Linked DNA regions of Homo sapiens. The protein of the gene in region 1 purifies or fractionates together with the protein of each later gene. This does not show direct contact. Each region holds a gene or a part of one and is shown on either strand. Other genes may lie near its edges. The genes, in order: MMP10, PCSK1N, EMILIN3 and MAN1A1.

Region 1 (7,026 bases):
CAAAAGCAAGTGAAGAATTCCAGAAACATTCTTCATGACACATGCAGATATCTGCAAGGCTCATCTTCTTCAGTCACAGAACATGCAGGAAAAATTAACCATTTTGGCTCATAATACATTAGATGAATAATTATTAGATTTATTAAAAACACCCATATCTGTCTTCCCCCTATCTCGCCTAGCAATGTAACCAGCTGTTACTCTTTAATATGTGTGTCACCATCCTGGCATTGGGGTCAAACTCAAACTGTGATGATCCACTGAAGAAGTAGAAAAATCCTGTAAATATAGATAAGGAAAATGATGAGACATCTTCAAATATGTCATTTTGCAACACATATAACTTAGATTAAGTACAAGTTAATAATGGAGGGCATTTATTAAGTGATTACTCTATGCCAAGCACTGAGCTAAGTGCTTTACATGCTTTATCTCAATTACCCTTACAAAAAACTGTGATGTGTTATTAATGAGAACAAAACTAAAAATTAAGACGGTTTTGTAATTTTAACAAGGTAGCATCTGTAAGGAAGGAAGGAGGGAGGACTCCATCTCATCTGACTCCAAAGGAAGTGCTCTAAAACATTACGTCATACTGGTTCTAAAGAGATAAAATTCTATAATATTTTAAAACCTTGTTTTACTTTCTTTCCAACCTCCCCTCTTCTGCTAGGTTCTAAATTACAGTTTGGGAGACAACTAGACCCAAGAGAATCAGACAAATGATAAATGAGCCAGAGGTCCATTTCCTGCTTTGCATCCATCATGGTTAAGTCATTTTAGTAACAAGATCATCAGCCTCATGACCATTGGATTGTCAAGCACTGGCAGCTCCCTCCAAAATTCCTTCAGAGTAATCAAGAACAAGTTTTGCTTTCCTATTTGCCCATTACCAGGAATCACATTTGACCTATTTTGAGCATATGGGAGGACTAGTATTTTATTTACAAATGACTAATGCAGGCAATCGCAGACTGCAACAGAAGCCCAGACAAGGCTCCCCTGGGGTGGGATAGAAGAAAAGGGACAACAGGATGGGATAGAGTAGAATGACAACCAGCCATCAGTAAGCCTGGCTCACACAGATTGTATTTTTATACCAACATAGTGACCTGAAAGATAATGGCTTCTGTGTGAGGAAGTATCCTTTGATTTTATGTGCGGATATGAAACAGAGACTAGGAAGTTATTCAGGAAAACACACACACACACACACACACACACACACAAATTTAAACCCACTTTGCATAAATTGGAAAGTTAAGATTTTCAGGAATTTGGAGTAAAAAAGATATCAGACTGAATGATTTAAAAACTGTTTTGATTCTGCACTTTATTTTGAAATCATAAAAATGCCTGGAGATTCCTGCATGACAATGAAATAAGGGTCTTCTTACCAAATGCCTGTAATACAGCATCAACCTTAGGCTCAACTCCTGGAAAGTCATCAGCTATTAGTCTAGGGAAGCCTTGCTCCATGGACTGGCTATTTTCATCAAATCTAAACCAAATGAAAGAAATACAGTTCAATGATGTGCAGTAGTCCCATTACACACAATAGTATAATGTGATGTTAATTTTCCAGTGTGGAATCCTAGACAAACTTTTTAAGTTGTGTAAAAAAGTGTTAAACATTTTTAGAGCTACAAGAATAGGTTACTTTCCTGGGCTTACAAGTTTAACACATAAAACAATATTTTCCAGAAACAGGAACATTATGCCATTTTACAGAGGTTCCATACATATGTCTGAGGTAAATTTTCTAAGCCTGGACACACAGAAACCAAATTTCCCTGTGTCTACTATAAATACATAAAGACTGTGTAGACATAATGAATTCATAATGCAAAATTAATTAAATCACTTAGCTAAAAATAAACCTCTGGTTCTCAGTCACACTGGGACCCTGTAGATCCTGTCTCCAAAGCCTGCCACACCTGGGCTTCCTATGGCAGCCACATGGTGACTGGAAATGGAATAAGAGGTGAATGCCTTTGGACCTCAGCTGGCCTCTCCTGATGTCTTTTAGTGTCTGAGTATATGGCCCAGTGATCACCATTCTGAGAGGCCTTTGTATCCGGAAGGTAGAACAATAAGCTGTCTTCCTCATAATCATAAATTTTGAAGTTAGAGAAAGTTAGAGGGTGGGTGTAGGGTAGGGAAATATCCTTAAAGAAAGAAAATAATTTTCTTAATCAGGCTTCATAGAAAGTCATTTCTCTTGCATCTCACCTCCAGTATTTGTCCGCTGCAAAGAAGTATGTTTTCTTCTTTTCCTTGTCAGAAACAGCTGCATCAATTTTCCTTATGGTTGGAGGAAAACCCAGGGTATGGATGCCTCTTGGATAACCTGCTTGTACCTCATTTCCTCTGATGGCCCAGAACTCATTTCCTATTGAAAAAATAAATCCAAGACATTTTACTTGAAGCCATTGATTTTAAAAATAATTATAGTGCATTGTTGTGGTAAAGAGGAAGGCTTGGTTTTAATTCCAACCTAATAATGTCCAGTTCACAGCCAGTCCTTAATAAATACTCCCTGAATGAGCGAGTGAATGAATGAATGAATAAATGAGTAGATAACTCTGATTCACTGCCCTTTCTGTGTCTTATATATTTGTATCTATATGTTATAGTTTATTTATAGATCAGTTTTAGTTATTTCTTATAATTGTTGGTAAACTTTTAACCTGAATTTCTCACCTAGACCTCTCTCTCTTAAGTTTCATACCAATAGATCAGTTGCTTATTGGACACTTCCTTTGAGATATTTCACAGTCACCAATTCCAATCTGTGCTTCTTGTGAACACTATCGGAATTCATTCAAATTCTAGTGAGTTAGGACAATAAAATCCCATCAATCTCTCTGCATTTACTTTGTTACATCACTCTCCCAGACCCCAAGCCTGAATTCCTTCTTCGCACTCACTGCCAGATTCACTAATCTAAAATGTCCATCTGTTGTTTATCTCTCTTGCTTCGTCTGAACCGAATGACTTGTATCTGTCTGAGCAGTTCCAGATATGCTCTTACTTGGTAAAAACAATTTCTTCTTTCTTAAAGACCTTTCTACTTTCTGTACACCCAGCCCATCTCTGCACAACAATAGAGAACTTTAAGACCCATCCTAACATCACCTCCCCTAAGGGATCTTTGCTGAGTCCTGGGTATGAGTCAGGTGCTCCCATGGCACCCTTCCTTCTCTCAGTCCCAGCACTTGTCATATGTAGGCTGCCAAAGGCTTCATCTCTGCTGCCCCTTCTAGAATATGAGCCCTTTTCAGTCCTGACCTCCACCAATGAGAATGGCGTCTGACACAGTGCAAGTGATATGTAAATGTGAGATACATTACTTGATAACAATACGTTAGAGTTATGTAATCCTTTACAATTTCTACTGCAATTTCACATTCATTTGATCTTCACATAAGTGAGATTGCCAGAAATAAATATTTTTAAAATCTCCATAAAGCTTGACATTTAAAAATATTCCATTATCACCTATGAGTCTAGGGAAAAAATAAAAATGAGAAATTAAAGAATTAAAATTGAACAAAATGAAAATACTGCATATCGAAATTTGCTGGATGAAACAGAAGAAATGGTTATTTATAGGTATAAATGCTTGTATTAGAAAAGAAAAAAGTTACAAGTTAATAAGGTAAGTATCAAACTTAAGCTATAACAATAATAACAGGATCAATTCAAAGTAAACAAAAATTAAGGCAACAATAAAGATATGAACAGAAACTAATTAAACGGGAAATCAAAATATAATATAGAGAGTAAATAAAGCCAAAAGTCAGTCCTTTGAAAAGATCAGTAAAATTATTACATATATTATGAGATTGATGAAGAAAAAAGAGAAAGGCAAAAGGATTCAGTATTAAGAATGAAAAAGAAAACAAAACTTCAGCAATAATTCAAATTACAACAAAATAATTTTCCAAAAACTTTTTCTGATGGATTTGAAAACAGACAAAATTGGCAAATTTTTAGAAAAACATGTTAACAAAACTGACTCAAGAAGTAATAGAAACTCTAATAGCATATTACCAATAAAACAAATTGAAACAGTAGTTTAAAAGTCTGATAAAGAAGCCTCTATACCTGAATATCTCCATTAGTTAATTTATCTCTCCCTGCACTGATACTACATCTTACCGATTAAAGTTTTATAACACAGGGCTTTTCTCCTCATCTAATAAGATGGGTTCACCAGGAGCATCCTGGCTATTCTTGGCCTTTCCTCTGCCATATAAATTGTAAAACTAATTTGTCAAGTTCCATGAAAAATCTTTTGGCATTTGGTATTTGAAATGAAAATGTCTTGTATCTATAGATAAATTGACATTTTTACTATCTTGCATTTTTTATGAATATGGAATGCCACCTATTTTCTTAAGAGGTCTCTAAAATAAAGTTTATAATGTTCTTTGTACAAATTTTATTTAAGTGTTAGCACAAGGTCTTTCAGTAATCTAAACTTTAATATAATGGATAAAACTCATGTCAATAAAATTTTTGCAATAGGATTTATTCCAGCAAGTTGAAATTCTTATATAGTACTCACCTTTAAAAATAAAAACGGTGTCCCTGCTGTTAACTTCATATGCAGCATCCAAATATGATGGAAGAGAGGGCCAAAATGCAGAAATCAAATGAAATTCAGGTTCAGGGTTCCAGTGGGATCTTCGCCAAAAATATCTGTAATACATAAAATTACTTGCAATTGTCTTTCTCTTTTAGATATGTGAAAAAAAAATTCTTTTTTTTTAAATCCATGCTAATTCACCCATTCATAGAAGTCTGTATTAAACCATCCTCCTGCATGTGATTCCAGGGTAATGAAATCGATGGCAGGACTTGTGACTGGTTCCAGTAAAATTATTTAGCTTGGTTCCATTCTAAAAGTCCATAAACAGTGTGCATATTATGTCCTAATATTTTAAAAAATATTATGTGTATATTGATGCTTGTATATGAGTAGAACATTTTTGTAAAGAGTCAAAGGAAATTGGTAGCAGTGGTTGCACATATGAAGGGAGCTGGAGGACGGTAGGCCAAAGACTGGAGAGAGATTTTTTAACTCCGTATCTTTTGGTAGTGTTTAAATATTGTGCCACAAGCACATATCACTTTTTTCCAAAAGTAATTAATTTAAATAGTAGCATATATTAGTAAATGGAAAGATACCACCCTGCTTCTAAGGATCCACCAGTGCTTTCTGAAGAAGTTCCATGATATATGATATTTTAAAAAAATGAACGAAACAGATATAACTCCCTGCCTTAATCAAACTTACAGTCTAGGGACCAAGAATCATCCCTTATAAGTCTGTAAAAAATGATCTGGACAATTCTAAGAAGATGTTAAAAATTCAGCAAGAACTAGATCTGAATGATTTTAAAATGTAGAGGAAATTTTATATTTTAAAAAATCTCTGTCAAGCAGAAAAAGTAACTACTGGGTACTAGGATTAGTACTGGGGTGACAAAATTATCTGTACAACAAACCCCTGTGACACGAGTTTATCTATATAACAAACCTGCACATGTACCCCTGAACCTAAAATTAAAAAAAAAGCTCTGTCAAGTTTCTGTTTTTCTTTCTAAGCACTGTACATCAAAAGAATAGATAGGAAAATATAATTTTCTGGTCTGACCTGTCTTTAAAGAACAGATATTCTCCCCTCAGAGTGCTGATGGCATCGAAGGACAAAGCAGGATCACACTTGGCTGGCATCTCAGATCCCGAAGGAACAGATTTTGTGGGCACCAGGGGTTCCTCAGTAGAGGCAGGGGGAGGTCCTAAAGGAAACAGATTTGGGGATGCAAACATTAAAAAAAAATGTGATGCATCTGTCAATTTGTGTGCCTTTCAAACATTCTCAAAGTGCTTCAGGCCAAATCAGAAATACTTTAGGTAGCACTGGAAAGCTTTCTGGAGGACTGTCATTGTAGATCTGCAATGCCTAATTTTTCCAGCATCACTCACCGTAGAGAGACTGAATGCCATTCACATCATCTTGCGAAAGGCGGAACTGGGCGAGCTCTGTGAATGAGTTGTAGAGTGGGTACATCAAAGCTTCAGTGTTGGCTGAGTGAAAGAGCCCCAGGGAGTGGCCAAGTTCATGAGCAGCAACGAGGAATAAATTGGTGCCTGTATGAAAATCATAAATGTTCAGAATTCACCAGCTCTTTCTTCCATAAATACACATACAGAACATATGCCAGCTGTACAGGCCATCCTTGAAACCACAATGTCTTTTCAGTATTTGTGGATTGGTTCATTGATTGGCACATTCCATACTTTATAGAAATTAATGTGTTTTTCAAGGTTGACTTTAAGTCAATATATAAGACAGTTTTTCACCGTATCCCTCCCTAGATCCCTCCTTGGTCAGGAAAACTAAGACACTTTTCCTATATTGACAAATGAGAAGCATTATTTTCAAAAGATTTTTTTTTGAAAGGACAAGACTAATAGCATGTCAGTAAATATAACTCTTCGTTGTCTAAAAATAAAAAGTCATTGTTCAAATTTAGGAACACTTGCCAGTTGCAACCTTGGTTAAAATTAATCATATAACATTTACGTTCAAACTTTTAAGCCAGAAGACTGTGGTTATTTCTTGTGGGGTTTAGTCTGATTTTCTCTTCCTCCTCTTCATCATACTCAAGTAATTTTTTTTTTTGAGACAGAGTCTCATTCTGTCGCCCAGGCTGGAGTATGTGTCCAAGCGATTCTCGTGCCTCAGCCTCCTGAGTAGCTGTGATTACAGGCACGTGCTACCATGCCCGGCTAATTTTTGTATTTTTGTTGAGATAAGGTTTCACCATGTTGGCTAGGCTGGTCTCAAACTCCTGGTCTCAAGTGATTCACCCAACTTGGCCTCCCAAAATGCTGGGATTACAGGCATTAGCCACTGGTGCCTGGCCATAATCAAATAATTTTTGATTGTCAAAAATCTTCCCAGTAATAGGTGCCATTGGATGTGTACAATCTTTAGTTTAAAACAGAAAC
Region 2 (7,240 bases), on another chromosome or scaffold:
TCCCTCCCCACCCCCACTCCTGGAGACCGAGTTTCTTCATAAGAGTAGTGATGGTAGATATGACAGTTATAGATTTTTCCATATTTAATATTGTGGACAATAGGAACTATATGAATAAACTTGTTCATATATCATTTGGCATGTGTACAAGTTCATCTGTAGAATAAATTACCCAATGACAAATTTTCAGTTCAAGCAGTTTTCAAACAATTTCCACAAGTTTAAAGAAATAAAAGAGGGTACCAATAATCTGAGCAAGGAATAAAAGATCATAAAAATGACTGTGAAGGTTTGGAAAAGAAACATACAGGCCACATATAAATATGTTTAAAAGGAGTGATGCCTGCAACACAAATAGTCAATGAAAGAGTAGTACACAGAAGATACAGAGAATTCCTAAAAAGTAGTAAGAGAAAAACAAACTCATACAGAAATAGAAAAAATACATGATCGCCTATTTCACAAAAATGATTACTAAACATATGAAAAATTGGGCCACGTGTAGTGGTTCATGCCTGTAATCCCAGCACTTTGGGAGGCCAAGGCAGGAAGATCGCTTGAGGCCAGGAGTTTGAGACCAGCCTGGTCAAAATGGCGAGACCCTGTCTCTACAAAAAATAAAACCAAAAAAAATGAGCGGGGCACAAGCCCATAGTCCCAGCTACTTGGGAAGATGAGGTGGGAGGATCACCTGAGTCCAGAAGCTCAAGGTTGCAGTGAGCCCAGATCGCACCACTGCACTCCAGCGTGCATGACAGAGGAAGACCCTGTCTCTAACAAACATAAAATAAAATTAAAAACCTCATTAGTAATCAGGGGAAAGCAAATTAAAATGCCAGGGAGATACTATGCATAATATAACCAAAAGATTGACCCAAATCAAAAAGTCTGATAATATGAAGTGTTGATATGAATGCAGAAAAATGGGAACTCTCATACTATGCTGGTGAGAATTAAACTGGCAAAGTAATTTTGCAGAGCGGTTTGACAATATCTAAAAAGATGCACATATCCTATGACCCACTCCTGGGATGTCACTCCCCAGAGCAGCTTTGGCACATACGCTACTGGTCACAAGTTCGTGAAAGATGACAGCAGCACTGTTCGTAATAGCATAAAAGGGCGGGGGAGAAAGAAAAGCCTGGAAACAGTCCAATGTCCACTGACAAATTGAGAATACATATATAAATCATGATGTCCTCATAGGATGTAATATTATGCAGCAATAAAAATAAATGAATTACAGCCACATGCATCAACTTGGATGAATCTCGTGACCAGAATAGAGCCAAGGGAAAAAAAAACGTCAAGTTCCAGAATTTCACTGCAGACTGCCTGAGACTACTAGACACCCTGAGGACTTCCTAGTGACCCCTAGTGACTACGAGGAACCAGTCACCCAGTATGATTCCGTTTCAATGATGTTCAAAAGCAGGAAAAACTAAACAATGGATTTTTTTTGAGAGCTACACATATGTGATAAGCTACAAACAAAAGTAAGGGATCAATGGACAGAAAATACAGAATAAGGACTGTGTGGGGACAGGGGCTGCCATGGCGAGGGGCACGCAGGGGCTTCTAACTCTTGGTCAGGCTCTATTTATTAAGCTGAGTGACTGCTACACGAGAGAGTTATTTTGTCATCATTCTTTACATTGTACATATATATTAAACACATTGTTACACGGATATAAGGTAACAGTTTTTTTTAATTCCCATCTTTGATGCAGACAGTATTGAAGAGCTAGAGGAGGATGCCTCTCCAAGTGCCCTTGCTGGCGCCCACCACTCCTCAGTCACCCCGGGGTATCACACTCACCAGCAATCACAGCCTCACACACACTCATGAGGACTGACAGGCCTGGAGATGTCACATATACAGCCCAACACTGCCACAGCCACATGCAAGGACCTGCACACGTTCACATCCGCAGCTGCTCCTGCAGTTACAATCGCCAAGCCACCCAGGTGCAAGGACATGCACCATCCTTAAAGACACAATGCAGCAGAGAGACATCATGGCTCCTCTCCTCAGGATGACACAGCTCCACAAAGAAACGGAGAGAAACAGTCTCAGGAACACGCAAACGAAATCCCAGGCACTTGGTCCAACAGAACCACTATGGAATGTGCACACGGAGATGCGAAGACCATTCCCTCTCAAACACAAACGAAATCACACACACACACACACACACACACACACACACACACACACAGAGAGAGAGAGACAGAGAGAGAGAGAGAGAGACACGCCCATAGGCCAAGCCAACACACATAATAAGGATTCACAAATATCCACACGGTGTCACTGAGAAAACAATCGGACGCACAAAAGAATCGCGCACAGAAGTATCCCGGTATCACACACACTACACACCCAGACGCACCACGGCACCTTTCTAGGACACTTGGAAGCGCTCAAACCAAAGAACACACACTTTCAAGGACACGACACCTCCACACCGCTCTCCTCACATCACACGCACACACACTGATGCGCGCGCGCCCTTTCTTAAAGCGCCTTAGTGCCGTGGACAGCGTCACAGGCACCGGGCACGGAGAGGTGGGCAGGGCACGGTTACCGGCGGCGCCCCGGACAACGCCACCCGCACAGGCAGAGACCAAGTCAGGTCTCAGGTGTGCCGGCGTGGCCTGGGCGCGGACCGGCGGCCGGAGCCCGGGCCACCCTCGTCGATCTCTCCGCACGTCCCGGGAGCCGGCTCGGGCGGGGGTGAGGCGGCGCAGCCCCAACCCCAACCCTCGCCGGTGGCATCCTCCCCCAACCCCCACCCCTCGCCGGACTGGGGTCGCACCTTTACCGGCCGCGCGCAGAGCGCGGGGGGCGGCCGAAACAGGCCGAGCAGCAGCAGCACCAAAAGGCCGACGCCCCCGGCCCGCGGCCCCCAGAGCAGCGGCGACCCCGCCATGCTGCCCCAGCGAGCCGGGCTCCGGACGGGCGGACTGGCTGGCAAGTGCGCAGTGCCGGGGCGAGCTGGCGAGGCTGCGGCGCTCTGCGGCTGCGCACGCCCGGAACCAGGCCCCCCCCCCCCCGCCCCCACCCCACCCACCCGACCGACGCAGGCGCAGCCTGGGGAGCTGGCAGCCCCACCAGACCTCCCGTCGCCATGGAGATGCCCAAAGGGCAAGGTGGAGAGCTGGCGGTTGCCATGGCAGTCGGAGGGCAGTTGCTGGGGCAACCGACCTTACTGTTACCTTAGTAGACAGGAAAACAGGCAAGAAAAATTGACTCAGTGGAGTGGAATGGGGGTCTGGTCCTCATCTCTCTTCCTGGGGGAGGAGATGGACTTTAGTTTGTTCATTAGATAAATAGTTAATGGATCACCCGCAGTGGGCCCGGCCCGCGCCAGGGAGATGGGTTCAATCTAGGTGATGTGACCATGGACAGCTCAGTTGGCCATTCTAAGGCTCAGGCTCTCAGCGGCGTAAAGGGGTTACTACTGACAGCCTCCCTCAAAGTGACCTTGGAGGTTTAGAATGACATTCAGTAGGAGCTCCATAAATGCTCCTTTCCATCCTCTCCTTGTCTCTTTGTGTTTTTTTTTTTCTGACAGTGTCTCGCTGTGTCCTCCAGGCTGGAGGACAGTGGCCGGATCTCAGCTCACTGCAATCTCCACCTCCAGGGTTCAACCAATTCTCATGCCTCAGCCTGCCAAGTAGCTGGGACTACAGGTGCCCACCACCACGCCTGGCTAATTTTTGTATTTTTGTAGAGATGGGGTTTCGTCATGTTGCCAGGTTGGTCTCCAACTTCTGAGCTCAAGCAATCGGCCCTCCTCGGCCTCCCAAAGTGCTGGGATTACAGGCGTTGAGCCACCATGCCTGGCCCCAGCCCAATACTTTCATCTCTCCATGGCTCTCTGTGTTTATCTTTCTGCCCTTATGTGCCCACAGCTCTCTCTGTGTCTTCCTCTCCCCATATGTCTCTCCTTGTCTATGACTTTCTCTCCTTTCATCTCTCCAACCGCTGTCTTGTCTCTGTCTTTATTTTACTGTCTATATCTACTTGTTTTCCATAGATAGATATATACATAGATACATATATGCATAGACTTTACCCATATATTGTTCCAGAAATAAGTTCAAGCCACTAAAATGACATATCAAAGGAAACAAGATCTTGAAAAAATGTATGTGTATCCATAGGGGGAAAAATGTTGGGGAGGAAATGTCATCAATGGTTATCTCTGGGGAGGTAACTAATGGTTTGTTACTTTCTCCTTTATACTTTTCTGTTGTCTGAAAAAAAAAAATTACAATAGGCCAGGCGCGGTGGCTCATGCTCGTAATCCCAGCACTTTGGGAGGCCGAAGTGGGTGTATCACCTGAGGTCAGGAGTTTGAGACCAGCCTGGCCAACATGGTGAAACCCCATCTCTACTGAAAATACAAAAATTAGCCAGGCATGGTGACACGCGCCTGTAATCTCAGCTACTCAGGAGGCTGAGGAGGAGGAGAACTGCTTGAACCTGAGAGGCAGAGGTTGCAGTGAGCTGAGATGGTGCCACTGCATTCCAGCCTGGGCGACAGAGCAAGACTCCGTCTCAAAAACAAAAAAAGATCATCTGAATAAATGAAGACACAATACATGTTCCTGGATGAGGCAATTTCATTTTATAAAGATGTCAAGTCTATCCAAACTAATATATAATTTCTATGTAATTTCAATTTAAACCCCAGCTGAATATTTTAAAGAAAATCAATTAAATGTACTTTTTATTTTGTTTTATTTTTAATCCTACTCCTTCTGTAATAAAATGTGTAATAAAATTTGTTTTGGTTTGTTTATTTGTGTTTTGAGACAGGGTCTCACTCTGTCACCCAGGCTGGAATGCAGTGGTGAAATCACGGCTCACTGCAACCTCCACTTCCCAGGCTCAAGCAATCCTCCCACCTCAGCCTTCCGACTTGCTGGGACTACAGGTGTTCCCCACCATGCCCAGCTAATTTTTGCATTTTTCTGTAGAGATGGGTTTCACCATGTTGCCCAGGCTGCTCTTGAACTCCTGGGTTCAAGTGATCCACCCACCTTGGCCTCCCAAAGTGCTGGGATTACAGGCATGAGCCACCACACCTGGCCATATTTTTAAATGTATATAAGAGTCCATGCAAAAATTTGTACACAAATGTTCAAAGCAGCATTATTTATAATAGCAAAAAGTGGAAACAACCCAAATGTTCATCAATAGATGAACAGATAAGTAAAATGAGGTTTCTCCATATCATTGAATATTATTCAGCCATAAAAAGGAATGAAGTGAGGCCGGGTGTGGTGCTGTAATCCCAGCACTTTGGGAGGCCGAGGCAGGCGGATTACTTGAGGCCAGAAGTTCGAGACCAGCCTAGCCAACATGGCGAAACTCCATCTCTACTAAAAATATAAAAATTAGCAGGGCGTGGTGGTGCATGCCTGTAATCTCAGCTACTCAGGAGAATCGCTGGAACCTGGGAGGTATGGGTTGCAGTGAGCAGAGATCGCACCACTGCACTCCTGAGCAACAGGGAGAGACTCCGTCTCAAAAAAAAAAAATCTCATGTATCCCATAAATATACACACCATGTACTTATAAAAATTAAAGATTAAGGGGCCGGGCATGGTGGCTCACGCCTGTAATCCCACCACTTTGGGAGGCTGAGGCAGGTGGATCACGAGGTCAAGAGATCCAGACTATCCTGGCCAACATGGTGAAACCTCGTCTCTACTAAAAATACAAAAATTAGCTGGCATGGCAGCAGGCGCCTGTAATCCCAGCTACTCGGGAGGCTGAAGCAGGAGAATCGCTTGAGCCCGGGAGGCGGAGGTTGTAGTTAGCCGAGATCGCGCCACTGCACTCCAGCCGGGCGACAGAGCAAGACTCTGTCTCAAAAAAAGGAATTAAAGATTAAAAACATTTGATATGCATGGTTGATTATCCTAGGTAAAAAGAATTACAGATAAATACAAATATGTATACATGAAAATGGATATGAGTTTTATTTGTTTATTGAAAAGTTATAGGGGCGAGGACAAAAGACTACAAAAATTAAGAAATAAAAATAAAAAGTTATTACAGCTTATTAATGGTAATATTATAATTAATACATACATAATTTTATTTATCATACTAAGTTAATTGTATTTTGAAACTGTGGAAAATTTTTTAATTTATTGACTATGTGTAGATTGACTGACTTCGAGACAGAGTCTCGCTTTGTCACCAAGGCTGGAGTGCTGTGGTGCCATCTCAGCTCACTGCAACCTACTCCCCTTGTGTTCAAGTGATTTTCATGCCTCAGCCTCCCGAGCAGCTGGGACTACAGGTGCACGCCACCACATCTGGCTAATTTTTGTATTTTTTGTAGAGATGGGGTTTTTGCCATGTTGCCCAGGCTGGTCTGAAACTCCTGACCTCAAGTGATCTGCCTGCCTCAGCCTCCCAAAATGCTGGGATTACAGGTGTGAGTCACCATGCCAGGCCTGTATCTGTAGATTTATATTTCCATGTATAACTAACTACATACATATACTTATATTAATAAATTCTCTACTGGAAATTATTACATGAATAATGTACAAAAGATGTAAAATTAGAATTTGTGTCCTTTTACTATGAAATAACTAAATTATTGTTTTCCTAGTTCAGTGGAGGTTTCTTTTGTCATCAAAAATAATCTATCTCTCTGTGCTTTTCGACATATTCTTAAATCTTTTTTTGTTGTTGTTGTTGTTGTTGTTTGAGACAGAGTTTCACTCTGTTGCCCAGTATGGAGTGCAGTGGCATGATCTCGGCTCAATGCAAACTCTGCCTCCCGGGTTCAAGCGATTCTCCTGCCTCAGCCTCCCGAGTAGCTGGGATTACAGGCGTGTGCCACCATGACCAGCTAATGTCTGTATTTTTAGTAGAGATGGGGTTTTGCTATGTTGGCCAGGCTGGTCTCCAACTCCTGACCTCAAGCGATCCGCCCGCCTCAGCCTCCCAAAGTGCTGGGATCATAAGCGTGAGCCACCGCGCCCGGCCACTTAAACCATTTTTTAAAAGAGTCCTTCTTTACCTTTTTTTTTTTTTGAGACGGTCTCACTCCGTCACCCGGGCTGGAGTGCAGTGGCGCGATCTGGGCTCAATGCAACCTACGCCTCCTGGGTTCAAGAAAGTCTCCTGCCCCAGCCTCCCCAGTAGCTGGGACTACAGGCACGTGCCACCACGCCCAGCTAATTTTGGTACTTTTAGTAGAGATGAGGT
Region 3 (6,987 bases), on another chromosome or scaffold:
ACGCCAGGCGAGGTCTGTCACTGTCTTGTAGCCAACCTTGTATTTGGGTCTGAGTACTGTGCGGTACCTGGGCCAGGGAGGGCAAGAGAGTGGGATCCTGCACCTGAGGGCTGTGCTTCTCCCCCTAGCTGGCACTCAGGGCCGCCCTCAGACACTTGCATAAGGCTGGGTATCTCCCCACCTCCATAGCACCCCCAGGGCTGTACTTTTTCTGTGCTTAAGGTGACAGGGGTGGGTAAGGGCAGGCCTTCCTGAAGCTCACAGTCATGTTAGGGAAGGATGCAGGTAGAAGTCCCACCCATCCTGGTAGCTTGGAGAGAAGCAGGAATTTTGCCCCATCCCTCCCAAGACCACTTGGACCCCCTCTAGCTCAGGCTGCCATGAGAAATTCCACTCAGGCTGCAGTAGCACCTGGGAGAATCAGACACAGCCCCAGCCCTCCCTGTGGGCAGGGAGGGGCACTGCCCTGGAGCTGGCGCTGGCAGCCCCCTCACTGCCCTGGGGGCCACTCTTGGCTCCTACCTGCTCCCCTTAGTTCTTTCCACTCCTCTCTAGCCTGCTCCGGGACCTCGGCTCTGGTCAGAGAGGCAGATGGACGGGTACCTCTGATTGTGAGCAGGGAAGGGAAGGTCCAGGGTACAGGCAGGCTCGCGAGGGTCCATGCCCTCACTGTTCAGCCACGTACCTGTTCACCCACTGACACACCGGAGACAACAGGTTTGTTTCCACACACACACGTGAACCTCTCCAGGTACAGAGCTGTGCATCCCATGTGCGTGCAGCCCTGCTGCTCCGGCTTCCTCTCCCTGCCCCATGGCCTGCCTCCTTGTGGTCACCACAGTCCTCCCTGGGCCTGCCAGGCCCCCCTGTGGCATCACCCGTTGCCTAAGGGGCCCTCTGCTCCCTCCTCTCCCCTCACCTTCTGCCTCTGTCACTTCCTCCTAGCCTTGTGCTGCCTCTGCCCCCAGAACCTTCCCCTTGTCCCTCTGTGGTTCCTGGGCTCCAACCCAAGCCTGCCCCTGTCTGTGCGGGTGATGCTCTGCTGCAAGCCCAAATCCCTGGGGTCCTCCTTGGCACCCTCTTTTCTGGGGCCGCCTTCTACTCTGGCCTGTATGGGGGCTCAGGTGGGCTCTCTGGAGTCCAAGAAGCCCCTTGTGGAGTTGGCAGCTGCTCTCAGCTGAAGGCAGGACTGGCGCTTGTGCCAGGGGATTCCAAGTGTGTAGGTGAGGAGTGCACTTACGTGACTGTCCCGGGGCACTTGGGCCCCCATCTACACTGCCGGTATTCAGCCTTTACGTAGCTCTCCGCTCCCTCCTGTAGGATGCAGGTCACATTCCTGTGCACCACATAGGCACAGAGGGCCCTACAGGAGAAAATGGCACCCCTGGAATATCTGGCTGAGCGAGGCCCACAGAGGCGCCTACCCTCCCACCTCCATCTGTGGGCCTCAGCAGGACTCCAAACTCCCATGTCTCTTCTGTCTGTTCTCTGTGTCCCTGGGAGCCAACGCCCTTGGTCTGGGGTCCAGCCCCGCTGCTGGTCTCTGATTCCAGCCTCCGTGATGGGTGGCCCCTGGGCTAAGCACTATTTGGAACCAGGAGCCTGATGTGGCTGCCCCTCCCTGCGTGGGGAAGAGGCCAGCCCGGATTCTCCCTCAAGTGCCCTGCCACACCCCCCCATCCTTCGCTGATTCCAAACTCCTTATCTTGGCATTTAAGGCTTCCGAGTCCCCACTCAGTGACTCCTTTGAGAGCACCATGTCTTGTCCTTCCTCCCTGCCTGGCTCCCGGGGAAATCCACCTCTCCTCGTAGTTTTGCAGCCCCTGCCTTTGGTCCTGTTCCCTTACTCTCAGAGCAGTTCTTGTACCACCTCCTCCAGGAGGCTCGCTGTGATGTACCCAGGCCCACTGAGTGTCGGTACTCTTCCTCCTACAACAGCTCTCAAATTCAGCTAGAATTCAAGTTCAGCCAGCACCCCAGGCAGAGCCTCCAGCCCACTTAACTGAGGCCAGTTCGCAAGCCACTGCCCACGAAACACCAGAAGCTGAGGCGGGGAAAGCAGGCTCCTTGATGAGCCACAAGGGCTGAGGAGGTGGCTGCCTGGCATAAGCCGACCGCTGTGGACGGCTGTGCCACAGCACAGGCCCGGAGCCAGGAGCCCGCTCTGGCTCTGCAGCCCGGCCACGCTGGGGCTCCCATGGGGTTGCTGGGGCCAGGCTGACTGCGAGAGGGCAGCGGCCGCCCGGATGCGCAGCTCTATCTCCTACCTGGCCGGGCCAGGGGAGAGAAGGGAGGCCCGGGGCGGGGGAGCCCCGCGTGCTCAGCGCGCGGACCGCCTTTCCTCCTCTCCCTCCACCTGGTCCGCTCGCCCGGAGTCTGCACACAGCGCAGCTGGAAAATGTTACTTCGCTGGAAAGGTTTCCGCTGGCACTGCCAGGATCCCAAGCCGCCGCGCCAGGCCCCCTCGGTTCCTTTTTCCTCGCCAGCCCCGCAACCTCCCGGAGCGTAGGGCGCTCGCCTGGGCAGGGGCTCGGCCCCGGGCGCCGCCCCCTCTGTGCAGCGGCCTCGGGGTGCCCGGGGCCTCGACGCCCCCCGCGGGTGCGGGCAGGTGGGAGCGGCGACGCGCGCGGGCCCATCCCTCCCTCTTCCCGCCCGCCGCCCGCCCGCGCTTACTTGTGCGGCCCCGGGCGCAGCCGCGGGCGCCATCCCGTCGTGTAGAGACTGTAGCGGGAGGCACCGGGCGGCGCAGGCCGCGCCAGGAGCGGGGTGCCCCTGGCCTGCGCCCCCGAGAGCAGCGCCGCGACGGCGCACAGCCAGACGAGCAGGCGGCGGCGGCCCATAGCGGCCCCCGCGCCTCTGCCCGGCCCCGCGCGGTGCCCCCCGCCGGGTGTCCGCCTGCAGCGCCGCGCCGCCCCCGCCGCTGGTCGGCCCGGGTCCCGCCCCGAGGGTCCCGGGGTCCCCTTCGGCCCCCGAGCTCGCTGGCCCGGCCGCCTGGCGCTTCGCGGCGGCTGCGTCCCGCGGAGTGGCCGGCGCTGCTAGCGGCTGGGGCCGCGGAGGGGAGGCGGGAGGCGGGCTCTTTGCGGATTAGCATAAACTTGGGGCCGCGCCGCTCGCCGCCGCCAGCCCCTCGCCCCAGCTCCGAGCGGACGGCCGAGGAGCCGCCTGCGAACAGGAGGTTCCAAAGGGAGCAGCCCCAGGTGGCAGGGGCGCAGGCCGCCGCGCCCTGGGAGGCCCCCCGAGCACACCAGCCACTCTGTCGCCTGCGGGCACGGGGCGAGACGCAGAGAAGCGGACCCCTGAGGCCAGCCTGGGCGTGGACTTTCCAGGAGTCGTCCACCCTCAGGATACGCTTGTCTTCAGAGTCCGTGTGAACCCGGGAACTGCTCTCCAGGGCTCTGGAGCCGAGATGGCCGTGACTGGGGGCACAGCAGCACCACCTCCCCCGCCACCTCTTTGGAATAGACCCCAGATCATCCCCGTTTGCTCGCTCTGCCTCCTGGCCCCATCATTGCCCGGGAACCTTAGTTTGATAACTCCGCTGACCTCTCCCCAGGCATCCCACCTCCCCCTTACCCCGCAACCTCTGCCACGTAGCCTGGTGGCCCGGTTGCACCTCTGGTTCTCTGGAGGCGCCTGTGTTGCCTCTCTGTCTTAGGTATGGGTTGCACCGAGCCCGAAAGGCCTATCACCGCCCCAGCCCAGCCAAAAGTGCTGTGCTTTTCGTGCAACTGAAGCTCTAAGCCGGCTGGTCAGAGAAAATCCTCAGGTCTTTCTCACAAGGCACTGCCGCGGTGAAGCCAGGCGTCGTCCACATTTTGCTTGTGAAGTTGACTCTTGGAACCCAAGAGTTGGGTTTTATCGTCGTCCTCATTCAGTATCACCTTGCTAACTCTCTAACCTGCACAGAGTCCTTCTGATTCTGTCATCAGAGCGGTACTTTCCTGGCCTTGTCTCATCCACACCGGTGGCTACAGCCGTCTGTGTCTTTGCCCCAGGAGCTGATAGGTGTACAGAACTCTGGGGCTTGCTTGGAGAGACCTCCCTCCAAATTGACCTTGAGATATGAATTAATGCCTTTTGGATAGGGTGATGGTTATCAAGGATACTGGAAGGGGCAGCTCCGAAACCCACATCTATTTCCTGCCCTTAGCTTTAGTGGCTTTTGGGTTCTGTGGGGCGGACATCTGACCCCAGCTAGGCCCATCCTGCTTTCCCCCAGGCTTTGGAATCAGAACACAGAAGCTGAAGGAATCCAGCTTCCAGGTGTAGGTTGTGTGAGTTTCTCAGGGCTGTGGTAACAGCCACAGACTCAGTGGCTTAACACACAGAAATGTATTCTTGCACATTTCTGGAGGCTAACTCCAAAATCCATGGGCCAGCAGGGCAATGCCCCCTCCAGTGGCTCTGGGGAGAAGCCTTCCTTGCCTCTTCCAGCCACTGGTGGTTCCTGGCAATCTCTGGCGTTCTTTGGTCAAGGATTCTTTGTAGCAGCATCACTCCAGCCTCTACTTTCCCTCCGCATATCCCTCTTCAGGTGACCTTTTTTTCTCTGTGACTGTGATCTGTGTCCTTTCCTCTTCTTTCTGTTTTTGTTTTTTGAGCCAGAGTCTCGCTCTGTCGCCCAGGCTGGAGTGCAGTGGCGCGATCTCGGCTCACTGCAAGCTCTGCCTCCCGGGTTCACGCCATTCTCCTGCCTCAGCCTCCCGAGTGGCTGGGACTACAGGCGCCCGCCATAATGCCCAGCTAATTTTTTTGTATTTTTTTTTTTTTTTTAGTAGAGACGTGGTTTCACCGTGTTAGCCAGGATGGTCTCGATCTCCTGATCTCGTGATCCGTCCGCCTCGGCCTCCCAAAGTGCTAGGATTACAGGCGTGAGCCACCGCGCCCTGCCTTTCTGGTTGTGTTTTTAAATTTGAGACAGGGCTGGGCGCGATGGCTCATGCCTGTAATCCCAGCACTTTGGGAGGCCGAGGTGGGGGGATCACCTGAGGTCAGGAGTTTGAGACCAGCCTGGCCAATATGGTGAAACCCCATCTCTACTAAAAATAAAAAAATTAGCCGGGCGTGGTGGCGGGCGCCTGTAATCCCAGCTACCTGGGAGGCTGAGGCAAGAGAATCACTTGAACCCTGGAGGTGGAGGTTGCAATGAGCCGAGATCATGCCATTGCACTCCAGCCTGGGTGACAAGAGCGAAACTCCATCTCCATAAATAAATAAATAAATAGAGACAAGGTCTAGCTCCATCACCCAGGCTGGAATGCAGCGTCGACCTCCTGAGCTCAAGTGATCCTCCTGCCCCCACCTCCTCTGTAGCTGGGACCACAGTTGTGCACCACCATGCACAGCTCATTTTTAAAATTTCTGTAGAGATGGGCTCTCACTTTGTTGCCCAAGCTGGTCACAAACTCCTGAGCTCAAGTGATGCTCTCACCTCAGTCTCCCAAATTGCTAGGATTCTAGGCGTGAGCCACTGCACCCAGCCCAGCCTCCTCTTCTTATAAGGACACCAGTCATTGGATGTACAGCCCAACATAACCTCATCTCAAATGATTACGTCTACAAAGACCCTATTTCCAAATAAGGTCACATTCTGAGGTTCCAAATGTTCATGAATTTTGGGAGGGGCACAATTCAATCCACTACAGGGGCACTTGGCTGGTAATGATAGGAGAGACCACGAGAGCTCTGGGGGAATCATGGGAAAGGGAGAAAGAGTGTGGTCAGGGGAGAGAGGGGCAGAGTCAGGGGCTATGTGGTGAGTAACCATCTGGGGACAAGCTGTGACTTCCCTATCTGCTTCCAGTAGTCCACCATTGGAGCTAGCTTGAATGGGTTTCTGATCCCAGCAACCAAATGTGCTCTACAGAGAGAAACTTCTCTAGTCATGAACTGTAGAAATGATCCCTGAAAGTATAGTCTTACAGCAACCACATGGTCCCTAAGACAGCCTTTCACTCTCCCTATAAAAGCACCGAATGTGCTATTATATGCTCCAACCTCTAAGAGAGATGTTATGAACCATTTTGCTGAGGGCAAGATACACCATATCCCCAACAAGCTCTTGATCTTGTAACCACTGACTTTGCGCTTTTTAGGAAGTGAGAAACATCTGAGCCAGCTCCTCATCCTAGGCTGGGTGCTGACTGCCTGGCAGCATTGCCCAGCCTGGCTCTGGGAGGAACTCCCCCACCCCAGAGGCTGTGATCTTTTTCCAAGTGGTCCCACCCCTTCCTCTCACTCCCTTCCCCAGCCCCAGATGTGGGGCCCAAAACTCACAAGGAAGAGGCTGGACCCTGTTTGAGCTTGGAAATATCCACGTCATAGGGGCTAAAAGGATAGCTGGACCCCACTTCCCCCTTTCCCAGGTGGCTGACATCAAACACCATGCTCCCTCTTTCACTGCAACAGTTTTGGGATCCAGGATCTGGGCCCCATTCTAGTGGGGGTGGAGGACCTCAGTACAGGGAGATGCTCAGGGTCTTGGCTGGATCAGGCCAGAGCGGGGGTCCCCCCATAGACGATGAGGCCACTTTGCATCTGCCAGACAGGAAACCTAGGGAGGCCAGAAGCAGAGGAGGAAAGGAGGCAGTCATGTTCCTCTGACTCAGACTGGAGTTTCTACACCTGGATGGAAACGGGCCATACACGGGAGTGGGAGTGCAGTTTCAGTTCACAGGGACATGCACAACCACACCCAACCCATCCCCCATACCACTATCATGCATGTGCATGAGTTTTTCCTTTCGTACAGATGGGGTCTCACTATGCTGCCTAGGCTAGTCTCAGACTCCTGGCCTCAAGTGATCCTCCTGCTTTGGCCTCCCAAAGTATTGGGACTGCAGGGGTGAGCCCTATGCATCCTGCCTTTCTTTTCTGTTCTTTTCTTTTTTTTCTTTTCTTTTTTTTTTTTTACGGAGTCTCACTCTGTTGCCCAGGCTGGAGTGCAGTGGCGTGATCTCGGCTCACTGCAACCTCTGCCTCCCAGGT
Region 4 (7,026 bases), on another chromosome or scaffold:
GTAGAGACGGGGTTTCACCGTGTTAGCCAGGATGGTCTCGATCTCCTGACCATGATCATGATCCACCCACTTTGGCCTCCCAGTTTTTTTTTTTTTTTTTTTTTAAATATAAATCTACTAAAAGAACAAGTTGGACCATAAGCTGTGAAAAAATCACACTGCGAAGAGAGAAGAGAGGTTCACACTATTCAGCCCTAAAAGACCACAGCTGGAAACCAGGTCAGGAGAAGAAAATCAAGGGAAATGATGGATGAGGAAAGGAAGAGATGGCAGAACCTGCTGTCTTCGGATAATTGAGGAGCTGAAATGCAGAAGGGAGATTTTTTCCCTCTGGTACCCCCAGAGCACAGAACACTGTAAATTGTGGCTTCAAAATAAATAACTTTCTAACACCTTCAATATTACCAATTGGAATGAGTTACTTTATTAGGTGATACATTCCCCTTTGCTGGAAAGTCCTTGGGTTGATGAGGAACAGCTATCTTGCAAAGATATGGAGGGGAGTCTTGTCTTTAAGCGGAAAGCTGGATGAGGTGATTTTTAAGACCCCCTATGTTTCAGTTTGCGTTCCCTTAAAAATAAAGCATGAGACAAGGGTTGGACGCAGGATGCAGGAAGTCTATCAGGGAGGTGACATCAGGAAGTGGGCAAGTGGGAAAAGCAAAACAGGGACAGAAGAGCCAATGAATCATATTGTTCAACTGTGTGCAACGAGGCTCACTCCTGCTAGAAACCCTCTGAAGAACCATGTAGCATGCATTCCAGAATGATTCTTGAAGGAAAGAAGACTGGGACAGTTATCCACCAACTCCAAAACCTCCTTGGTTGACAGCCATTAACTCCCCAGCACTTCCCAGACCACAGCCAGCTGGCTAGGGAAAAGCTCTTCCACCTTCTTTTCCTGACATGGTTTCCAGCTGTGGTCTCAAGTATGCATCAGAACAGCCAAGTGCTGGAGGTGGGAGCTGCAAGCATATGCGGGGCTGCTGCTGAAACACAGGAGGCCACGGGGGTGGGCATAACACCAGGGGAAAAACGTGCGGCCATGCCTTCGAAGTCCCAGTTTTTCTGGTTTAAAAAATGCAAGACCCTACAGCACTCCTGGCTCACCACTATAGCTCAGGTTCTAGCAGAGGTTACTGGGGGCATCCCCAAAATTGAGACCTCAGTGTTGTGACACAGGGAAACGATTTCAGGTCATATATTATGTTAAAGAGTTGACAAGAAATAAAAATCATAACACATAAACCAACCTTATGATCTCATAAACAAGCAACCCCCTGAAGAACACAGCAAACCAAAGCATCCTGTCTACCTGGCAATACGAATTTGCTTACTTCCCATTTTTGATACCTTCTCGGCCATACATTTTGTACATTCTAACATCTATAAAATGGATGTCATAACTTAATTGGTAGTGTTATTTTTCTTAGTGGTATATAAAATAATGATGCTTCTTACTAATTATGGTGTTTTAGATTTGATGGAACACACCATTCCTGATATTTTCAACTTAAAATATTCAATTCATTTGCTGGCCAATTGAAGACCAAAACAATTCCCTATCACCAAAGTTTAGAAAAGCTTCAACTTTAACATTTTCTCCAGAGGAAAAAAACAGAAATGTAAAGAAATTACAATGACTACTGATTAAATGTAATAAAACTGCCCCCTCAAAGAGGCCTAGAGAATTGCTGTTATTTAAAATGACTGATGATTAATGATAAGACACATATTAAATGAAGAGGATAATAAGCAAGATTCACCGATGGCTTCCTAAGATATTAGTTAAATTTTACCAAAGGCAATATTCATTTTAGATTTCCTGAGAGAAGTCATTCCTCATGGACAGTTTTTAAAGATAGCTAACTTTCTAACAAAGAGTGCTAGAGAATGAGAGTGTAATTAAAGAATTTGCTTGTTCTTATCCCCTGAATTCCCTCCCACTCCTTGAGGAATAATAACTCTTACAATTAGACAGACATTGTTAGATGCATATCCTGCAGGTTGCCTCCTCAGGCATTCGGCACACAAAGCATTCACTAGATTGGTTTAGGAAGGAGGTATACTATCCTCAGCAGGAAGAGACCCAAGAGGTGACAGACAAAACAACACACTGGGCAGATGGAAAGCTTATAGATATTCCAAGAAACCTGAGACTGGTAAAGGAATATCCTTATACAAAGTAATTCTTCTATAAGTGCTTTCTAAAAGTTAGATCTAAGTAGCTATTTACTCTAAGTAAAAGCATATACTAGCATTTTAAAGCCCAAAGACAGAAAAAAACATGAAGTGGTTTATTGAAATAGAGGTGAATACCCCAAGCTGCCAACAACCCTTAGGTGGAATTAAGAGATCATCATTTTTGTATTAATGGGAACTTAATTTTAGACTATGCCTTTCTAGTTATCTCCTTCAATATCTAAGTCTATCAGTAGATATATCTATATCAATGTTATACAAAGCAAAGCTGAAGCCAGGGATATAAAATGACTTCAATGAAAATACACAGTCCTGGGTGGAAAAAATCCTGGTCGAAGCATTAAAAATTATAGAAAAGTTGATAAGCCTGATTTATGGGTATCACTGAACATTTTTTACTATGAAATTTATCTATAAGAAACATGCAAATTAAAACATCACCTCTACGGCTTCCCAGGCCCATTTCCTGTACTTTGGATCATGAGTCAGTCTCCACATATACATGTAAGTCTCCATAACTTCTGGCCGTAAGATGTAGTATTTTTCATTTTGTCTTGTAGCGATGGCTTCAACACCACCATCAAATCTGAAAGCTTCTGGTCCCAGTTTCATAACTAAAGGACATGGAATGAATGAATAAGGGTTATTTTCCTGGACAGTGCTTACAGTCAATAACTTAAATGAAACTAGAAAGTACAGTCATCCCTCAGTATCTATGAGGGACTGGTTCCAGGACCCTCCGAGGATAACAAAATCCATGGATCCTTGAGTCCCTTATATAAAATGGCAAAGTATTCGCATACAACCTGGGTACATCCTCCCATATACTTTAAATCACCTTGTTTACTTATACTACTTAATACAGTGTAAATGTTATGTAACTAGGTGTTATACTGTATTGTTTAGGGAATAAAGATAAGAACAAAAACTCTATAAATGTTCACTACAGACAGAACCATCCATTTTTTGGGAACATTTCTGATCTGCAGTTGTGGAACCCAGGGATACGAAGGTCTGACTGTACTTTAACAACACTGAAGAGAAATGTCAAAGTAGTCATTTTAAAAACGAGTTATAAACATCATGTAATATATAATATTCATATACTTAAACAATTTAGTCATTGAAAAGAGTCCATTTTAGAAAATATTAACAATTTATTTTTTTCATTTAACCCCCATTTACTGAGCACCCACCAGGCAGATACAAGGCACCATGAAATACCATTTGAGTTAGCCAGAAACTTAGTGGTTGACAATCCTAAGTAATTTCGTAACAGAAGGCCAGTTATTTACACTTTGTGTTTCAAATTCCTATTTTATAAGAAGGGAGTGGGATTCATGATCTGTTTCATGGGGGATGTGGAGAAGATTAATAATGGTTAATAAAATGCTAAGTTTCTCTTTGCAGGGAGATAGAGACCCTTGCCCAATGTTATTGGCAAAAGCAGAAGTCAGTAAATTAGGCTGGCTTTAACTCTTTATGGCCTGGATTTTTGTTTCTTGGTAAACTAAAGGTAGATATTTTTAGGAAGAAAAGCATTGCCTTTTAAAATAAAATATACATTCCTTTGAGACATTAATCACGATCATCAAGCTTCATAGGCAGAGCGGATAGTCTTTTGAGGGCAGCAATGACAAAACTGCATTAAATCAAAGCATGTGGGAATAGACCATAAATGAAGAATAACATGTACTCACATGTTCGATTATATGATTCATGACAAGTACGGGCAATTTCAGCCCCGAGTTCAAGGTAGTGTTGGGCCATGCCTTCGGGAGCTGCATCAGCCCCGAGTGCGAACATGCCCCCCGCGAAGCAGGTCAGGTGGCCCATCTTGTGCTCCAGGAGGCCCCCTTTCCACTCTGCGATATAAGTTAGTCCGCTGCTAGACTTGCGGATCAAATGAGTCTCGATAGCCTGTGAAAAACACTTATTTTTTAACATTTTGTAATCTCTTCTCAAATTTATACTAAAAATATGCCCAACATTAAAAAAAAAAGAATAGAATACACCTGACAATCAGAGTTTGGTGTTAAAAATCCATTCAACCTGAAATTACATGCTATTGCTTTCTGTATTCCTCCTCTAGTTTATGCCTTATTTGTTTGATTAGTCAGAATTAACACTGCTGCGCCAGCACATTTGGTTTTGCTTGGTTCTGTGACCAAACATTGTATTCCTCATATTCAAAAAACTTTCTCCTTCCCAAAGACAGGCCACTGTGCAGCAGTAATAGTTGGTTTGGTACATTTTCATTTCCATAAGTGGTGAAATAACACAGCCCAGGCCCTAAGGTGGATGAAGAACACAGCATATTTGTGCATGAGATCCAGGATGGTGGCAGAACTCTTCCTTTCACTTCTGTAGGCTTGGAGGGATAACAAAATAGAGTGGCAAAGAGGAGGTGTTCTGGGGCCAGAAGACTTGGCTTCAAATTCCAGCTCTGACACTATCTCTAATTTGTGGGAGTGAACAATTTGCTTACTATATCTCTAAATCTCAGCATCCTAATCCATAAATGGGAACAACAGGATCTCCTGATACGACTCTGCCACATTTTGTTTATAAAGCAGTCACTAATGCAAGTGGCACTTGATAAGAGTCATTTATAATTATCATTTACATCTCCAAAGTGGTGACGCTTGAATCAAGTTCCTCTCTAATACTTCTATTAAAAAGCACACTATTATATAATGAATAAATGTATATATTTTAAAAATCAGAAAAATCTTTAAATTTGGGAGAAATGATAATGTTTACAAAAATGATTTATAAAACATCTTTTATTTCTATCCCAGGTCTGTTGATATTCTCTTAAACTAGACAGGTAAGTAAAATATGCCTTATATTTTAAAAAGCAAAAATAAAGTGTGTTTGGCATTGCTAATCTCCAATTACTCTAACAGAAAATGTTCTCCCCACTGCCCCACAATTACTTCATGGAAGGAAAAAGGACATGACTGTGTCTATACCTGTACACTGCTATCAAGAGAGAGGGATTTGTTAGGAAGCACATTTGGGAATAATAGACACAGAAAAAAACTTGTGATAGAGAAGAATGAATGAAAATGAACACACAGGAAGCTAAAACCTTTCCTACCTTTATTAGAAATAAACGAATGAAACCAAGATGGTAAGAAATAAATGAACATATTACTGTGCTCATTAACCGTGGTTAAGCTAATGTTATTGATGGTTTAGTTATTACATTAATATTTCATTCTTATTTTATGCGACTGAACATCTTAGCTATTTATACTTCTCATAACACAAATTGCAATAAAGTCCTTCAAGCAGATACTTGTTCATCACCTAAGAAATTATTCTTTCTACATGGCAAGAGTAGTAGCTTTTGAGGATGAATTAGAGAAACATTATTACCCTGTTATGGATCCTAAATAAAGTATTTCTGGCATGATTCGGACCAAGTTGCTACCTCCTAATAAAAACTACAATGAAATTCCAAGACCTTCAAAGCAATAATTTTGTGTGGCCATGGGAAATATAAATAAATACAAAGAAGGATAGTCTTTAGTAGATCTGAAAAAACTGTGTCAAGGATACAGATAATTGATTAGAAAAAAGAGTACTATATATTTTGTGATTTAATCCTTGTATAATTGATTTAAAAAACTGGTTTGATGAAGCCTTCAGAATCGTAAGTGTCTGATATGTCTTCTGCCCAGGTATCATTTGCCATTGTGAGTTCCTAGTGTAGTCTCCAGATAGGGCCATGATAGCCAGTTGAAAGCTCAAAATATTTTGTTATTAAAATAATCAAATAAAACATATCACTCTGGGATTAAATGCTTCCCAAAATCTACTTGAAGCTACAACAGAGTAGCCATATCTTCAGTAATCAATTGTCCAGAACAATAGTGTACAGCATCCTCCCCTTGGTTACAATAATCTTCTAAAGTACAACTTAGCAGAAATAAACTTTGCTGTATAAGACAATGCTACTTCTCAAAACAGAAATTTAGTTGTTCTAGCTTTGCTTTCTAAGTTGAAAATATACAGTGGATTGAAAATTAGCTTTTACTACTAAGAGAAGCAGGAAACACTTTGACTTCATTTGTTCTTAATGGATTTTCCTGTCAATGATTTGTCTGAATACAATATACTAAAAGTTGTGTGGGTATGGTTTTAGGAATTAGGAAGAAAATATTTCAAATAATATTTTAAAGCTGTCTTTTTTTGAACATCAAGATCTTAGACGGCCAATTTAAGATTAGAATAATTAAAATGTCTGCCAGTATGGTAATTAGAGGATGACAGAATGGAAACTATAAAATATGGAGAACTCCCCAGGTTAAAATCTGAAACCTCACAGCAATGAGGAAAAATAAACCTAAAAGAGGCCATGTGGATCATATCCTAGTTTGCTTTTGATGTTAATCATGTGCCTTTATAAAGGCTGTGCCAAATGTAGGCCAACGTTCTCACTAAGGCGCTTCTGGTTCCTACATGTGAAGTAGTGAAGACTTGTAAAGGAAACCAATGTCATACTCAGTGTAGTTAACCAGAACAAAGCAAGCTGCATTTATATTTAAATAAAAAAGTACGCCTATGTCAAAATAACCCAGACCTCTTGTTAGAAAGACCAATTTTATAATGGCTACATCTTTGGGATTACAAATTTCCATTTTTTTCCTATGAATTAACACTTTATTAAAAAATTTCTAAGCTGTCAAGAAAAATAAAATTTTTCTGAGGACTGAGCCACTATTTTACAACACTACTTGAGAAGCCTTGATAATAATATTAAAAGAATATATGTATTACCACATAAAATACTTAATCGCAAAAGCACCTGATTCC

The links.
Region 2: the proteins of MMP10 (region 1) and PCSK1N purify together in Homo sapiens (affinity purification with mass spectrometry; 2 studies listed by BioGRID and IntAct, with this or other methods). This does not show direct contact.
Region 3: the proteins of MMP10 (region 1) and EMILIN3 purify together in Homo sapiens (affinity purification with mass spectrometry; 2 studies listed by BioGRID and IntAct, with this or other methods). This does not show direct contact.
Region 4: the proteins of MMP10 (region 1) and MAN1A1 purify together in Homo sapiens (affinity purification with mass spectrometry; 2 studies listed by BioGRID and IntAct, with this or other methods). This does not show direct contact.

Annotation. Positions count from the first base shown.
Region 1 is NC_000011.10:102,770,615-102,777,640, forward strand, and holds part of MMP10 (stromelysin-2 preproprotein), read right to left. Parts: intron 6,163-7,026; coding exon 5,998-6,162; intron 5,811-5,997; coding exon 5,666-5,810; intron 4,708-5,665; coding exon 4,574-4,707; intron 2,393-4,573; coding exon 2,233-2,392; intron 1,502-2,232; coding exon 1,398-1,501; intron 280-1,397; coding exon 179-279; 3' UTR 1-178. UniProt on the Homo sapiens protein: Can degrade fibronectin, gelatins of type I, III, IV, and V; weakly collagens III, IV, and V. Activates procollagenase.
Region 2 is NC_000023.11:48,832,603-48,839,842, forward strand, and holds the start of PCSK1N (proSAAS preproprotein), read right to left. Parts: upstream 3,009-7,240; 5' UTR 2,931-3,008; coding exon 2,817-2,930; intron 1-2,816. UniProt on the Homo sapiens protein: May function in the control of the neuroendocrine secretory pathway. Proposed be a specific endogenous inhibitor of PCSK1.
Region 3 is NC_000020.11:41,363,795-41,370,781, forward strand, and holds the start of EMILIN3 (EMILIN-3 precursor), read right to left. Parts: upstream 3,025-6,987; 5' UTR 2,841-3,024; coding exon 2,674-2,840; intron 1,364-2,673; coding exon 1,241-1,363; intron 68-1,240; coding exon 1-67.
Region 4 is NC_000006.12:119,185,762-119,192,787, forward strand, and holds part of MAN1A1 (mannosyl-oligosaccharide 1,2-alpha-mannosidase IA), read right to left. Parts: intron 4,123-7,026; coding exon 3,903-4,122; intron 2,817-3,902; coding exon 2,644-2,816; intron 1-2,643. UniProt on the Homo sapiens protein: Involved in the maturation of Asn-linked oligosaccharides. Progressively trim alpha-1,2-linked mannose residues from Man(9)GlcNAc(2) to produce Man(5)GlcNAc(2).